Linked DNA regions of Homo sapiens: region 2 is linked to region 1. A link means that fine-mapping ties the variant in region 1 to the expression of a gene that starts in the linked region. Tissue or cell type: monocytes. Region 1 holds a variant in brackets; the other region holds the start of a gene. All regions are shown on one strand. Distances are between the middles of the regions.

The links. PIP is the estimated chance that this variant, and not a neighbour inherited with it, causes the effect.
Region 2: GOLIM4 starts here. The variant in region 1 is fine-mapped to the expression of GOLIM4 in monocytes (Fairfax 2014, PIP 0.95). The same link has a PIP of 0.9 or more in B cells.

The regions. Positions count from the first base shown.
Region 1 is chr3:167,904,694-167,912,806 of GRCh38, reverse strand. It overlaps the pseudogene LRRC77P. Among named protein-coding and RNA genes, the nearest start is that of SERPINI1, 170 kb to the right of the region's middle. The variant T/C (reference allele first, on the strand shown) is at 3,415.
Region 2 is chr3:168,092,558-168,100,670 of GRCh38, reverse strand. GOLIM4 (golgi integral membrane protein 4) reads left to right here and starts at 4,747. Exons shown (of 16, transcript NM_014498.5): 1 at 4,747-5,572. The coding sequence starts at 5,386. RefSeq lists enhancers at 3,972-4,021, 4,219-4,720 and silencers at 4,392-4,631, 4,922-4,971.

The DNA.
Region 1 (8,113 bases):
GTTGCTCTTCTTCAGAGATTCCTAGATAAGAACCACAAGTTGAGATTTTGGAAGTATGTTTAGGGGGCAGGACTGGTATCTTCACTTGCTATTGGCCAGTTGTTTGAAACTCCCACTAGATATCACAACTTGGGGAAGCATGATTTGACCCACATAGTATGAGCAGTAATAAAATGATTTAACCCACTCCTGTCTTCCTAACCTGGTTGGGGGAAAGGTTGAAGACAGGAAAAGATCCAGGACTTCACCACATTTTTCATTTTCTAATAGTTGAAAATCATTTTTTTTTTAATTTTGCCAACTAACTTTCCTCTCATTTCTTCTAAGGAAAATTGAGCTAAACCTCTTATTTGACAACACTAAATCAGATTCACAGTTATGACAATAATAAATTAATCAAAATATGACTATTAAATATCTAAACCACTCAGTTTTCTCACTATCCTTCTGCTATAGGAGCCTGTGGCTGTGTGTGAGGGGCTTACTACCGAGCCCTCTCAAAACAAGATGAGTAATACAAAAAAGGGGAAATATGAAACAAATCAGCAACTTTATTTCTTTTTCATCTTCTTTGCTTAAAAAGCAAAGGAAAGTTTTTTTTTAAACTATATTAAGGCTATAATATAGGTTATAAGGTTATTAGGTTATTTAAATTGTTCTTTTTTTTTTTTTTTTTTTTGAGACGGAGTCTTGCTCTGTCTCCCAGGTTGGAGTGTAGTGGCGCTATCTTGGTTCACTGCAAGCTCCGCCCCCTGGGTTTACGCCATTCTCCTGTCTCAGCCTCCTGAGTAGCTGGGACTACAGGCGCCCGCCACCACGCCTGGCTAATTTTTTGTATTTTCAGTAGAGATGGGATTTCACTGTGTTAGCCAGGATGGTCTCGATCTCCTGACCTCGTGATCCACCTGCCTCGGCCTCCCAAAGTGCTGGGATTACAGGCGTGAACCACCGCGCCAGGCCTAAATTGTCCTTTTTTATACTATCCATGGTCTAAGTTACTGCAGATGACCTTTAGCTTAAAATTTCACTCATAGATTTATTTTTAATTCAGATTTAGCACATCACTATGAAAATGTGACAGTTAAAATATAAAATATCTCTATTTTTTATACCTTAAATTCTGGGCATATATTTCAAGGTTCACAGATAATTTAATTGCTTTCTAGAACTATTAAAAGGAGAAGGGAGTTACTTCTATTAATGGTAGAAAAAAAGCCAACAAGTAGAATTAACTTTTTTTTTTTTTTTTTTTAGATGGAGTTTTGCTCTGTTGCCTAGGCTGGAGTGCAGTGGCACCATCTCAGCTCACTGCAACCTCCACCTACTGGGTTCAAGCGATTCTTCTGCCTCAGCCTCCTGAGTAGCTGGGATTACAGGCATGTGCCACCACGCCCGGCTGATTTTTGTATTTTTAGTAGAGATGGGGTTTCACCGTGTTGGCCAGGCTGGTCTTAAACTCCTGACCTCAGATGATCCACCCACCTCAGCCTCCCAAAGTGCTGGGATTACAGGCTTGAGCCACCACTACTGGCCTAGAATTAACTTTTAACCATACATAAATATTTCTAGCCCAGTCAAGTGAGAACAATCACTAGTATAGTGATTTAATCTTCATATAATTTTCTCTTTGGGGATTGTGAAGTCATTCCTGATTTTCTTTCTCTTTTGTGTCTCAATTCAGTTAGTCACCTTATCCTAGCAGTTTTCCCTTTGAGAATCTGTCCCTTCATTTTCAATGTCCAGGTTCTCATGTCTTCCTACTTAAACTGTAATTATTTTCTCTTGAATCTTCTTGCCTGCAACATTCTCTCCTCCAATATAAACAACAAACGTTACCATACAACCTTCCTAAAACACAGCTTTTACCCCAGGACTCACTACTGAAAACATGTCGGAAATTTCTTCTTGCCTACAAATCCTAGCTTGTCAGATAAGGCTTTCCATAATCTTAACTCAACTTCCATTTCTGAACTCATTTCTCACTATTTTCCAACATTATCATCCTTCAAATAAGGTTTGCACACAACTTTCAGGGTTAGGGAAAGAATGTCCTGTTTGCAGTCTGAAGTTGGCTGGTAGGTAAATGTGGGACTCCAGATGACTAATTTTAATATCCTGATCTTCAGTTTTTCATGTCTGCAAAAATAGGGGGAAGACCTAAATCAAGGGCTGACCACGAACTGAATTTGGTGAGAAAACATGTTTGTTTGGCATGTATGGTGCTTTACAAAAATACTGATTTCTAGTACTTTAAGGACAATATAGGCTTTTTTTATTGCCATAGGCCCCTACACTCTCTCGTGCTTCCCTCTGATATTATGTCAACTTCACTCTGATATTATGTCAACCAGGCCCCTGAAAGCAACCCTACACTAAATTACTTCAATTCCCTACCAGCTCTATCATGGTGTATTTCTATGAGTCACATCTGGTATCATTTGCATGCACTTTCTCCACTCTGTGTTTCTGGAATGCGTGACTCCCCTCATTTCAAAGGTAAAAGAATAAAGGAAAAAGGACACTGAGGACATCAAAAGACAAACTTTGCTTTTGTGGCCTGTGGGCTTTTGTGGACTATGATAGAAAGTAGTAAGTTCATTTGTGAAGAGTTTATGGAAGGCAATAAGAGGGAGTCCAGTATTTTATTATTTCGGCACGAACATCAGTTCTTACACCGGGGGCAGGTGGAGGCCAGGGTGTAGACTTCCCTTTCAGTCATTTCTCTCATAATGAACTCTGCTGTTATCACCCAGGAAATCCTTTGACCCAGAATGAGGCAGTATCTCAACCGACTTACAAATAAAATATCCTTATGTTACGAAATGTTCTTCTTCATTGATAAGGATGCTTGGATTTAAAAATCATAGAAGTGGAAAACTGGAGCAATCACCTAATTGAGCAGGGAGACCCTCAGGCTGTATTGTCTTTCACCCACCCCCACTTCAAATTTGGCAGCTTTCTCTGTACATCAGATAACCCAGAGTTATTAAACTCTTCCCTGTATTGTTTGTTTGAGTGTTATTGATCTTCTGCTCTTTTAATTATTTCTTTTTAAAGTAGCTTTCAAAGCTTTCTTTGAAGTTGGGGGCCGAAGTTCACTTCCACTGTGAGGAGTTGAATTAAATTGGATTTTTCTTTTTTTTCTCAGACTTGGTTGGTAATTGAAGATATATCTTAGCAGCTGAACTACAGTCTGGAATATCTGACAGTTCAGGGATGTTGACTTTCACTTGCTCCCTCTCAGCCTGTTCTTTGTCCCCTCACTGGATTTGTAACACATAATAGCAGTCACTGAACTAACTTCCCGGGATATTTTTGAATGGAAAGAATCTATTCTTTAAAAGAATTCTGCCACCAGTTTACTTTTTTGCTTTATTTAATTGTGAAAATTTAAGTCAGTCTTGATCTGGCAAT[T/C]GAAGCCTTAGGCAATTGCTGTTTATCACACACCAGATAACCTTTCCTGTCTTATGAGCTCTTTCTGAATGTACAATTGAGGCAATTGAGATAAACCGAAGTAGCTTTGATGGGTGTTTCCAGATCTAATCTAGAAGGAGGGTAATTCTTCTCAAAGTGCTTTTGAAAAGCATTTGTTCTCCACGTCACAAAACAAACTTAAACAAAATTAAGAGCAATGAAGGAGGGACATCTATTTCTCCCTGGTTTGAGGAGATGGGATTTTTTCAAATGTTTTCCATCCCCTAGATCACGCTCTGGTCCTTTTATGACTAGTCACTTACAAGAGATTGGGTGTTGTTAATGACCTACAGAAGGAAAATGTGCTTTTATCTCTGCAGAGCAATGATGTCCTCTGCATGAATGGCCACCATGGTCATTACATTGGATTGGTTTTGCTGAGTGATGACCTCAGCACATAACCTGGCCACTTAAGTCAGGGAGAGAAGGAGAACTTTGGACATTCTCTGCACAAGCTCATTTTCAGTTTACCCTCACATTTTATTTCCTTGTCATCTCTAGTTTCTGTAGTTCTCTCTAAACCCTGACCCAGCACTTGTGCTCAGAATACGATTTCTTTTTGCCTTATGATGGCTGCCACAATTATCAACCATCTGCCTCTGCACTCACACACTCATGCCAGCATTTTTACTTATCAGTCTATTCACTTCCTATTCAAATTTCTTTCTTCTCTCCCTTTCTTCATACCTCTTAAACCAGTGTTTCTCATAGTATGGCCTTCAAATCATCTACAACAGAATTCCCTGTGATAATTTTTTACAAATCTGGATTCTGGGCGCCATCCCTTACATCAGATTCAGTGGGCGTAGGGCCCAGGAATCTGACTTTTCACACACCTCAAGATGATTTGTTCACACACTAAAGCTTAAGGACTAAAATCCTTCCTGCTTTAGCCTGTGACGTAGCTCTCTCTTCCTTTTGCTGGAGGACTCCTGACACATGTGACACACTCAGCCACCACTTCTCTTGGTGTCCTTCCTTCCTAATTCTTCACAATTTCTCACTCTTGGGAAAAAAAAAAAAATCTTCCCAAGGTCCCGAAAGGACAACTCTGATTTATCCCTAGTAGTACTATCTACTCACATTTTAAAAATAGGAGTCAGTGCTTGGCTGCAAATAGAGCTGACAAAGTTGAAGCATAAGAACATATTTTACTCAAAGTATAAGAAAATTACGCTATTTTAGTTCCCCTTCTTTTGCCAACTGAGTTTGAGTGAAAGAAGACAAGCATCATGTGGGGATCCACTGAGAGGGAAAATGAGCAGATGAATAGACCTAAAGCCACTTTTCCTAAATCAACAGTAAAATTGTGCAATATACAATATTACTGCAAATCTGCTAATATAGATGGAAGATAGCGAAGATTTGATGTTTCCTGGAGACTAAACACTCACTGAAGCAGGAATTATGTCTAATATTATTTCATTGGCTTTTGTGGATGCAAAAAAAGACATGAGAAATGCATGGCCTCTGTTCTTACAGAATTTATAATCTATTGAAAGTTGCTTATTGAAATCAAACATTATGTATATCAAGGACTGCAGATGGCGGTTATTCAGATTGTTATACTATTACCCTTGTAAAACCTGATAGAATAAAATAATAATAGCAAAACATAGTTATTCCAGCAAATTTAAAGTGCTGTGTGAAAATGTTAAATGAGACTACCTGGTTTATTTAGTGTGATGGTTAATTTTAGATATCAACTTGACTGAATTAAGGGATACCCAGACAACAGGTGAAACATTACTCCTGGATATGTCTGTGTATTAGTCAGGGTTCTCCTGAGAAACAGAACCAATATGAGATAGATAGATAGATAGATAGATAGATAGATAGATAGATAGATAGATAGATAAAAGGGGGGTCATTATGGGAATTGGCTCACATAATGATAGAGGCTGAGATGTCCCACCATATGCTATCTGCAAGCTGGAGAACCCATGAAGCCAGTGGTGTAACTCAGTCTGAGTCTGAAGGTCTAAGAACCGGGAGAGCTGATGGTGTCACTCAGTCTGAGGATGAAGACCTGAGAACACCTGAGAATCTGGCGGCCTGCTGATATAAGTCCTAGAGTCCAAAAGCCAGAGATCTTCGAATTCTTATGTCCAAGGGCAGGAGAAGATTAGTGTCCCACCTCCAAAAGAGAAAGCAAATTCATTGTTTCTCTGCATTTTTGTTCCCCCTAGGTCCTCAACCACTTAGATAGTGCCCACCCACACTGGGTGAGGCAGATCTTCCTTACTCAATCCACTGATTCAAATGCCAATCTCTTCCAGAAATGCCCTTACAGACTTTCCCAGAAATAATGCTTTACCAGTTTATCTAGTTATTCTTAAATGCAATCAATTTAACACCTAAAATTATCCATCACAGCCTGTGAGGGCATTTCTGGAAGAGATGAGCATTTGAATCAGCAGGCTGAGCAATGATTTGCCCTCACCAATGTGGGCAGGCATCATGCAACCCATTGAGGCCCCTGATAACCCTGATGGAGTGACACTATCATCTCTCCTGATTTTCAGATCTTCAGACACAGACCAAATTTTACCACTGGCCTCCCTGTTTCTCCAGCTTACAGACGGCATATTGTAGGACTTCTCAGTCTCTATAATCATGTGATTCCTATAATAAGTCTCATCTCTCTATCTATCTATCATCTATCTCTTTAGATATATATATATCTCTCTCGATGTATAGATTTATATATATAGAGAGATGTATATGTTGAGAGAGAGAGAGGTGTATTTTATTGGTTCCATTTCTCTGGAGAACACTGATGAACACATTTAGATTCTATTTTGATGTTGTTGGAAAAAAACAATATAGAATTAAGTCAATGTAAAGTCATCAGTTGAAATGACAGTGTTATTTGTTATCATAAAAAATAGTAAATAAATTTCCAACAACGATTATTGGTTACATATATTTAATATATTTAATGATATTAATATGATGGAAAAGTATGCAAGCTTTAAAAAGTATGTTTTGGGTAATGTTTAATGGCATGGAAGAAATGCTGACAATATCATTCTGTTAAGTGAAAAAACTTAAGAAATAAAAATTACATATATGTATGTGTGTGTAAGAAGTAAATGGAAATAAAAGTCACGGTGGTTAATCTGGACAGTCAGTTACAGGTTCTTCTTTATCTTTCAATATTTTCCAATATTTATTACTGAATGTTAGTTATTTATATAATCAGTTATAAGAATATACCTTCAAAGGTGGCTTCACTTATCAACAATTCTATGGTCTTGAAAAAGGAAAATTTTACCTCCAAATGGTGTCTTTTTTTTTTCTTCAAGTAATGTCTTTTAATCCACAAAAAATTCTATTCAGAGGATGTACACGAAAAAGGCACACATTTATTCTTTTACCTTCTCTTACTCTTGGGCAACGCAGTTGACTTCCTTGAACGTCATGTCTACCTTGTGCCAAGTGAGGTACTTACAAGAATCTGATGGAAGCTTTAAAACAAGAGAGAAGAGAAACACTATATCATCTGGCAATATGTAGTTCTTTTGCTTCCGTGTGTAAAAGTAATGCAAATCCATGCCAAACACTTAGCCAAATTGAACTCCAAATATCTAATGGTGTGCTCATGGAAATCATCTTATCCAATCTAAATTATGTGTTCTTATTCAATTTTGCATCCCCAACACCTGCAGCTGTTTTACATTTGATGGTAAATGACAGCATGAATAAATATATGTACCCATTCATGATCCCCTTTAGACCAATTTATATAAATCATCCTTTAATATTTTTTAATATCTCACGAGCAGTCTCATTCCATTTATAACAGTTCTAATTGTTAAAATGTCTTCATTACATGGACCCTGCTTATTACATAATCCCTCTAACTTGCTCCAATTGTACAAGTTCTATTTTTTCAAGGCTGCACAGAGAATCCTTCCACGTATGCTTACTGTTTTAAATGTTTAATTATAGTTGTCATTCTCTTCCTAAGTCATTCAATTATTACTCATAGATAATGGTCTATAAATTAGTAAATATTTTGGTGGTTATTCTTGGAAAGAGTTTCAACTTACTGACATTGCTCTGAAAATGTGTAGATCAAACTGAATGAAATATTTCAGGTAAAGCTATCTTTTTCTGGACAGTATATTACTGACTAGAACATGTACCAAGATCACATTTGGGGCAATTTTAATTGTTTACTAACACTGAGGTTGTAGTCAATCAAAGTTCCAGTGTTTTATATAACTTGTTATTATTTCAAGGTTAACACAAACAAAAGGCACATTACTTGAAAAGAATATTATATTAAATATTTACACCATAGATTCATTCTTCTGTTAGCCAAAGTTAAACATGTGTACAAACAAACTCAGAATATTTAGTTTAAAAAATGTTAAGTATTTGGAACAAATACTCTGTTCTTTAGAGCAGAATTTGGCAAGTGCTGCCCCAAAATAAGTTGAGAAGAGCTGGCTTTTTAATAATAATTTAACTTTGATATTTTAGCTGCATTACTTACTCACTGAATGACCTTGGCCTTGCTCCAATAAATATCCCAATATCTTCATTTAAAAAATAGAACTAGTAACAAAAGCTGTCTACCTTGTTATCAGTAACACTAAAAAGTTAACTTATGCTTGAGCAATTCTTGGAG
Region 2 (8,113 bases), 190 kb before region 1:
TGAAGCAGATTATTATTTCCCTTAGGAATAATTCTAAAATTAAACGTTGAATTTCTGACCCAGAACTTGGCATTGGATACTTTATAAATATGACCAGCCACCCTCATCACAATTAAAAAATTACTATATGTTATAACATATTAAAATTGTAATGCCAATTTTATAAAATGGTCATGAGTAAACTAAGTATAGCTTTCATAAAAATCAATCCAATAAATTATAATATTTTGGGGGAGGGGACATTAAAAAATGTCATGTTTTACTGGCCACTGATCTTTTCTGTGGTATCTCTGCTTATCTAAAGTCTTTGACTATTAAAGGCAGTGAGTTGGTGAGAAGCTGGATGAGCCATTGGAAGATTTAGGAAGTTCACTTCTGAGGCTCACATATGCTCCCTTTCCATTCTTTCTAACTTCCTATGAAATTAAACTGAAAAAAAAATGTGGTAGTTAGCTCATTATATGCTAGCTGTAACAAACATTAAGCAACATATTCATAATGATTTCGTATACTGCCTTAGAATTTGGAAAAGTTTAGGGTTGGCTAGATATCCTGCTTTAGAATGTTGTTAGAGGTTTGAAATGATAGTTCCTCTTCCTTTAGACTAGCTACACATCCTGTGGCAAATAGGGACTTCTAAATCACGTCCATTATTAGTAGTCTGTATTCAAAAGGTATTTATTTATTTTTATTTTATTTTATTTATTTTTTTTTTGAGATGGAGTCTCGCTCTGTTGCCAGGCTGGAGTGCAATGGCGCAATCTCAGCTCACTGCAACCTCCGCCTCCCAGGTTCAAGCGATTCTCCTGCCTCAGCCTCCCGAGCAGCTGGGACTACAGGCACACGCCACCATGCCCAGCTAATTTTTGTATTTTTAGTAGAGACAGGGTTTCACCATGTTGGCCAGGATGGTCTCGATCTCATGACCTCGTGATCCGCCTGCCTCAGCCTCCCAAAGTGCTGGGATTACAGGCGTGAGCCACCGCACCCGGCCTCAGAAGGTATTTCTTAGTGATATTGATGGTAAGGTTTCTCTCATTGAAAAGCATTTTTATAAATAAGAACAAATCATCTACTTTCTCCTCTGCCCTCCTCTTCAGATATAGTTGAAAATTACAAAGGTGGCAACGTAGTGACAGATGTAAACAAGGCATAAAGATACATTGAGTGGGGTTCAGTTACTCAGTTATGCATTCAACCACAGACCTACTTTTTAGTTTGTTAATCTTCTAACAATTACTACTAGGTCATTATCAAAATCCTATGAAAAAGGAGTCTCAAAACATCTTTCACAAAATGTTCAAAAAGACATAATACCTTGAATGCAGCTTTCTTTACCTCTCAAAACAGGTCAGGTAAAAGTGGCAATCAGCAAGGCAAGTGTATTCATTAGGGGACAGCAAACTGATGAAATGGCAAAAAGGTGAAGACATCATAGAGTGAAGATTGTTTTATAGGATAAATAACTTTTGTAATTGTCAGATGAAAAGATTAAAATTAGTTTATTAATACTGAAAAGCTATTTTAAATTTTATTTACTATTCATCACCTTTTCTTAGGTGATGATTTCTCCTACAAATTACAAAATATTGAGTTCCATTTGTAGTAAAGAAATTTAAATAAAAGATTTAGATAATAGAAATTATTTACTCTAGGATCCTAAATATTATTAATTTAAAATCTTACTTTTAGAAATTATACGTCAGCTGTCTCTCTCAACTTTTTATTTTTTCCTTCCCTTATTTTGAAAATGAACAAATTTGATTAAAATGACAAATTCACTTAAGTTAGAGAGAATTAATATTCCCAAATGTTATATTTGCCCTTCTCAAATGTAAGACCTTGAGTATCTTTAAGTTAATTTCTTCCTGCCTCAGAAATAAAATACTAAATCAGTAAAATTCTTCAGGGTTTATAATTTAAAGTTAAATATATTGTTAAATATATGGAATATAGAAATATAATTATATATACTATTTTTAAAATAACAAAGAAGCAAAAATAAAATAGAATGAACAACACACCTTCCAAGACCAGTATAAACAGCTGTTATGTTATAATTGCTACCCAAAGGCAATGTTATGTAAATTCATTTTATAGGCCTTGGATAGCTTCCTCATGTTGGCCGCTCAAAAGCTCTATACTGACATTTTCAGGAAACTAGCAGCATACTTTACCTTGGAAATGTAATATTATAAAAATACCACCATTAGTAATTTTATGTACTTCTACATACCCTTCTTGAATTTGAAATAATGGATAAGTTCAGGTAATAATTTTTGCTGTCTTTCAAATTTTATGACTAAAATATTGAGTTGTGTTTTATGGCCTGCATTTATTATGTTCTGTAGAGTCAGCCAGCAGCTTTAGGCAAAGAATATCTTTGGAGTCTGGAATCAGATGCAAAGGAATCAGAGGTTTAAGATGAATCATACATTCAGGAAACATAAGAATTTTCCAAAGATTCTAAAATACATATTGTACAATATATGAGCAATAATTTTCCAACCCTCTATACAACTTCTTTTTCTTTTGTGGCTAGGATAATTTTCTCTTCAAATATGGGGCAAGATTATTGCCATAAACTTTATTTATTTATATATTTATTTATTTTGAGACAGAGTCTCACCTCTGTCGCCCAGGCTGGAGTGCAGTGGTGTGATCTTGGCTCACTGCAACCTCTACCTACCAGGCTCAAGGGATCCTCCCAACTCAGTTTCCCGAGTAGCTGGGACTATAGGTGCACGCCACCATGCCCAGCTAAATTTTTATATATTTTTTTTTTTGTAGAGGAGGGGTTTTGCTATGTTGCCCAGGCTGGTCTCATACTCCCAAACTTAAGCGATCTGTTCGCATTAACCTCCCAGAAGTGCTGGGATTACAGGAGTGAGCCACCATGCCCAGCCTAAATTTGGATAGTGTTTTTGGAGGAAGAGTTTGTTTAACAAAGTACTCTGACAACAGTAAGGAATGTTTAGTTATGAGGAATTTTAAAGAGATTCCAGTAATTATCCAATGTTAATTTCTGAGAGTCAAACTAAAAAAGAGGAATTTAAAGTGGTAGATTTAATAATAAGGAAGATTATGTAGTATTTACACAACAAAACTCCCAAACTCCTTTAGACTGTTTTCTTTTACAATCAGATTCTCATGTTAATGGAGATATAATTTCTTACTGTAACTTGTTTAATAGAATGAGAACATTGTTTCTATTGAAGAAAAAGACATAGAGCAGGGTTTGGATCTGGATTCTAATCTTGCTGAGTAACTAACTTTATGCAAGACCTAAAAGGTCCTAGAGCTGTCATAGTCACTTTGATAAACTTTGGCTTCTTTACCAACATGAAAGTCTAACACCCTGGCTGTGATCAGTGAGACAGTGTATCTGCACACGAAAGCATTTTGAATAATTTAACGCAAGTTATTATTTATTAAGGAAAAGCACATGCAAGACACACTTTATTTTTACAGTGGTATAAATGCCACAGGGTAGCATCGTTATAAATTCAGTTTATTTTAGGGCTTTAGCAACCTATAATTTCAGAGTCCACCTAAAAAAACTTTTGCACCAGGAACTGTCTTTCTGTTGCATTTAGCTAAAGAGATTTACCCCCATTTTGAGCACTCAGGCCCATTAGCAATGGTAACGACTAAAGTCCAGTTAGAATATAAAAATTATGCAGTGTATCATAAATTACACCACACTATACAGACAGATAAAATTTACTTTTCTTAGAATTCAGGTCAACAGCAGAAACAAAAATTATCATTTGTGCATAACCTTAATTATTCCCCTCAAGTACACAGAAAAAATAAATGCAGTATACATTTCTTCGAAGAGGTTTGTGGTTACTACCTTTCCTGTGCTGTACTAGTTTTTACATAGGGAACCTTTGTTGCCCTTTAAAATGTAATTTAGAAATGTAACTGATGTGTTTTGCCACCAATAAAACAAATACATATGACAAAATGAATGGATACTCATTTCAGTCTGTACGATTTGTTTTTAAATTATTCTATTTGCAGCTAGAGGAGAAATGTGAGACCATTTCTTTCCTCTCTGCCAATGGCAAGCCGATTTCCCCAGCCCACGTGGACAATTGAACATTAAGTCTAGCGTGCTTCCAGTCTCCCGACTCCTGCCGGGCCATCTGTGGGCACACACACATCTAGGCTAGTACACTGGATGGGGTAAGGCAGTCGACATGGCATCTCTGGTTTGACTACCGGGATTGTGCTATGTAGCTATCCCATGTGTCTGCCGCATCAGTTTATTGGACAGGGAAAGAAAGTGTACTCAGCAGAGTGCACACAGTTACTGCCATCCATTCTTTCGTTCATACACACATTTTACTCCGCTCTCCACGTGCGTTCCGAACGAGAACTGGAACACACACACACACACACACACACACACACACGTGTTCACCGAACCTCACCCAGACTCAGGCCCGGACAAGTCCCCCGCCCACCCAAAGCTCCCCGCCCTTCGCCCTTCCGCCTGCCTCTTCCCACCCTCTCCGACTCCACGTGGGCGCACCCCGGCGCCAGGCGGCCGCGCTGCCCACAGAGCCCCTAGCCGGCCCCGGCACTGGGAGGGAAGGTGCGGCCCTGGGGTCGGACGGACAAAGCCGGCATCCAATCGAGCCCGGCACTGCCTCCCCGAAGGGAGGGAGCGTCTGCTCGGACGGGCCCAATGAGCAAGGAGGCCGAGTGGGACTTCCTCCCGGAATCCCGTTGGCCAGAATAGCCGGGCCGTGGGTGACACGTAAGTTGGGCAGGAGGTGGCGGGGCGGCAGAGGCACCAGCCGACCCGTCAGTGACACCGCTGTGCCGTCCCCAAAACCAGCCGAGACAGCTGGCCCCCACCCTTCCACCCATTGGGCAGGCCGCACGGGGGCGCGGCCCGGAGTCCTGGTCCCTTTGTTGGGCGCGCACCCCCTCCCTTAGGTGGCAACAAAGTCGTGCAGTGGGAGCCGCCGCGATAGGGCGGGGAGTGGCCAGGGCGGGACTCCAAGAACTGCCCGGGGGCAGCGGGGCCAAAAAGTGGGAAGAAGGAAAAAAGGCAGGAGGCATCTGGGGACAGGCGCGAGGGCAGCCGGCTCTGAAGTATGCGGAGGGCCTCCTCCCGGCCCCGGGCATTCGCGGAGAACGAGCCTCGCAGAAGTTTGGCTGCAGCTGCCCGGGCGGCGTCGATGGCTGCGCGCCCCGCGCCGCGCGGGGGCTGAGCGGGCGCCACTTCCCCTCCGGGCCGGCTTTTGTGTCTGGCATCTCCTCCTCATGCTGCGTCTGGCCACCTACTGCGGCGGCCGCTGCTGAGACGCTCGCTCGGACCAAGGGGAGGAGACGGCGGGGGCGGCCGCGGCTTTGGGTCCAGGCGGGACTATGGGAAACGGGATGTGCTCCCGAAAGCAGAAGCGGATTTTCCAGACGCTGCTGCTGCTGACCGTCGTGTTCGGCTTTCTCTACGGCGCGATGCTCTACTACGAGCTGCAGACGCAGCTGCGGAAAGCCGAGGCGGTGGCGCTCAAGTACCAGCAGCACCAGGAGTCCCTCTCCGCCCAGTTACAAGGTACGGCTAACGGGACGCGCGCAGCCGGTGGCCAACTTTGCCCCGCGCCTCCACCCGGGCAGGAAAAGTGGCTTTGGTGAGCTATTGGCACTGTGGTTGCCACCTCTGACCTTCAGGGACGTCAGAGGTGAGCGTTTCAGGACTGCCGGCACCAGAGTGTCAGGGGAGATGACATTCTCATCCTCCCGCTTCTTCCTCCCAGCGGTTAGGTTTAGAACTTCGTAGCACCAGCCCATCGTCCCGCTGGGCGTTTGGTGGGCGGGTGCACAGATAGTCCTTTACCCGAGCTCTTGTCAAAGGCCCAGCTGCAATCGGGGCAGGGAAACTGGTAGCCCTCCGCCGCTTCTGCCAGCCCTGCTCTGAGGAGCATTGTTCCGTGGATTCTAGGTATTTGCTTTCTTGTTGACTTTGTCAGTTGCTTAAAAAATGAAGAGTTTGGCAGAGATTTCTCAAACTGTGCTGTTTTTCAAGGGAAAATTAAGCCATGACCCAGCAGCTTAATTAAAGTCATGGCCCAGTCGAATGGAAGGAACCTAGATCTGGACCTGCTAGTTTCTTATTTCTTATTCTTTTAATTTAATAGGATGTCTTTAGAGATGCTGGATGTGTGGGAAAAGTCCACACTACATACCATTCACCATCCTGCAGTAGTTTATTTCTTTAAAAACAGGTTTACTTGTCTTCCTAAGTAGCTTTTACTTCATCACAGAGATGCATGTATGTTACAGTTAGCTTCGGGAAGCCAAAGAGGAGAAACACAGGTTTTCACTTTGCCATGCACAGCAAACCCAACTTGAGCAAGACCTGTAGAAGAACTTAAAGTTTCTATCCTATTTTAGAATCTAATTTAATGTAATTTTCACAAACATAATTTACTTTAAATGTAAATTCAGAATTTGAATTTGAATTTACTTTTAACGTAAATTCAAAGTCAGCACCATGTCCTCTTGTTAAGGACGTATCCTATACATATTTTTTTTGCAAGCTTTTACTTGTGGTTAGTTTTCAATACTTATGCAGCTTTCTCCCCAACCAAAAAATAATAATAAATAGCTGTAAGTGGTGAAATGTTGGCAGACTTTGCTGATGATGCAAATATAGCTTGTTTAATATTGCTAGGTAGATAGATGCAAGCTAGAGGGATGTTTCTGTGTATGTGTGTGCAGATATGAAACAGATGCCTCTTCTTTGCTTCAGTTATTTTGAGTGTTTTCTAGTAAAAAATTTAAGATGAGAGAAAATGATACACATCCGATTGTTTGGACTTAACTTGCTCTTCCCAACTTAGAAGAAAGAAAAGTATTTTTAGCTTACTGACGCTGCATAGCCACAGGCAATGAAAATATATGGCTCGGCTTGGTTCAAAAGTAAAACCCGTTTTGATACGCTCTTAGGTTCACAAAATTTTCTTTAAACTCATTGAAATTTACCCATGAGTTATTGTTGGTATGAGAATATGGATATTTGTTTACTTATTTATTTACAAGGTATCAGTTGCTTCCCTGTGAAGTTCCATGGAGTCAGACCAAGGGAAAAATTTACCGTCTAATAGTATAACAGGACTAGATTTTCATAAACATGGCTGGAAGGGGCATGTATGGTGGATTATATGAGGTTGTGTGTGCCTTGGTCTCTTAGGAGTCCCATGAGGGCAAAGGCTGTCATTTTCACCATTACCTCCTCAGCACCACACTGTGCCTGACACTCATTAGGGGAATCAATGCATGTTTATTCAAACAACAAACAAAAATTATTCTGAACTGTGGCGAGTAAGTTCATCCCAGGCACTTTTGTCTTTCTGAGACTTTGCTTCTGTGTCTTTGCTTTTTGAAAGCCAAATAAAACAAGAAAATATTTTGTTCAAGTAGCTCCTTTGCCTCAACGGCCTATGATGGACGATGGATATTGTTGACTGAGGCCCTAATTTCTGAATAATGGCCTTTATTTGCAGTATTTCATTTTGAAATTTTAGAAATTTCTTTTCTAATTTGCCTTTTCTTTTTTTAGTGGTGGTGGTGGTAGTGGGGAAGAGAGGTGGTAAATGGTAATACAGGATCATTAAAATATACAACTTTTGTTTTGCAGCAGATGGAAATGTTCTACCTAATTTGAATAAGTGGCTTCAAAGTCCCTTTCTTAATTTATTCTTTTGTCATTTCCTCTCTAATTATGGTGCTACAAAACTTGCAGTATAATTGTGCATGAATAATTATTTCACAAGCAGGCTAAAGTATTTTTTTGTTTGTTTTTGTTTTTTGTGGATTCACTTTTGACTTCAGTAGCATTTATTTTGGATTTCCCATGTGTAAGCCATTTAATGTACATTTTCTGGTGGTATGCAACTTTTGCTTCCCTTTTCCAAGACAAATGACATTTTACTCAACAGCACTGTGTACCACCTGCATAGATGGGCTTTTAGGACATCAGGCTCTCCAGTCTTAATACTTGTTTAGTTAGGTGGGATTGCTTGACCTGGCTTGGATTAAGATCAGAATTAATGACTTTAAAAAGAGTGGTCTTTTTAAAAATGACTCTTGAAAA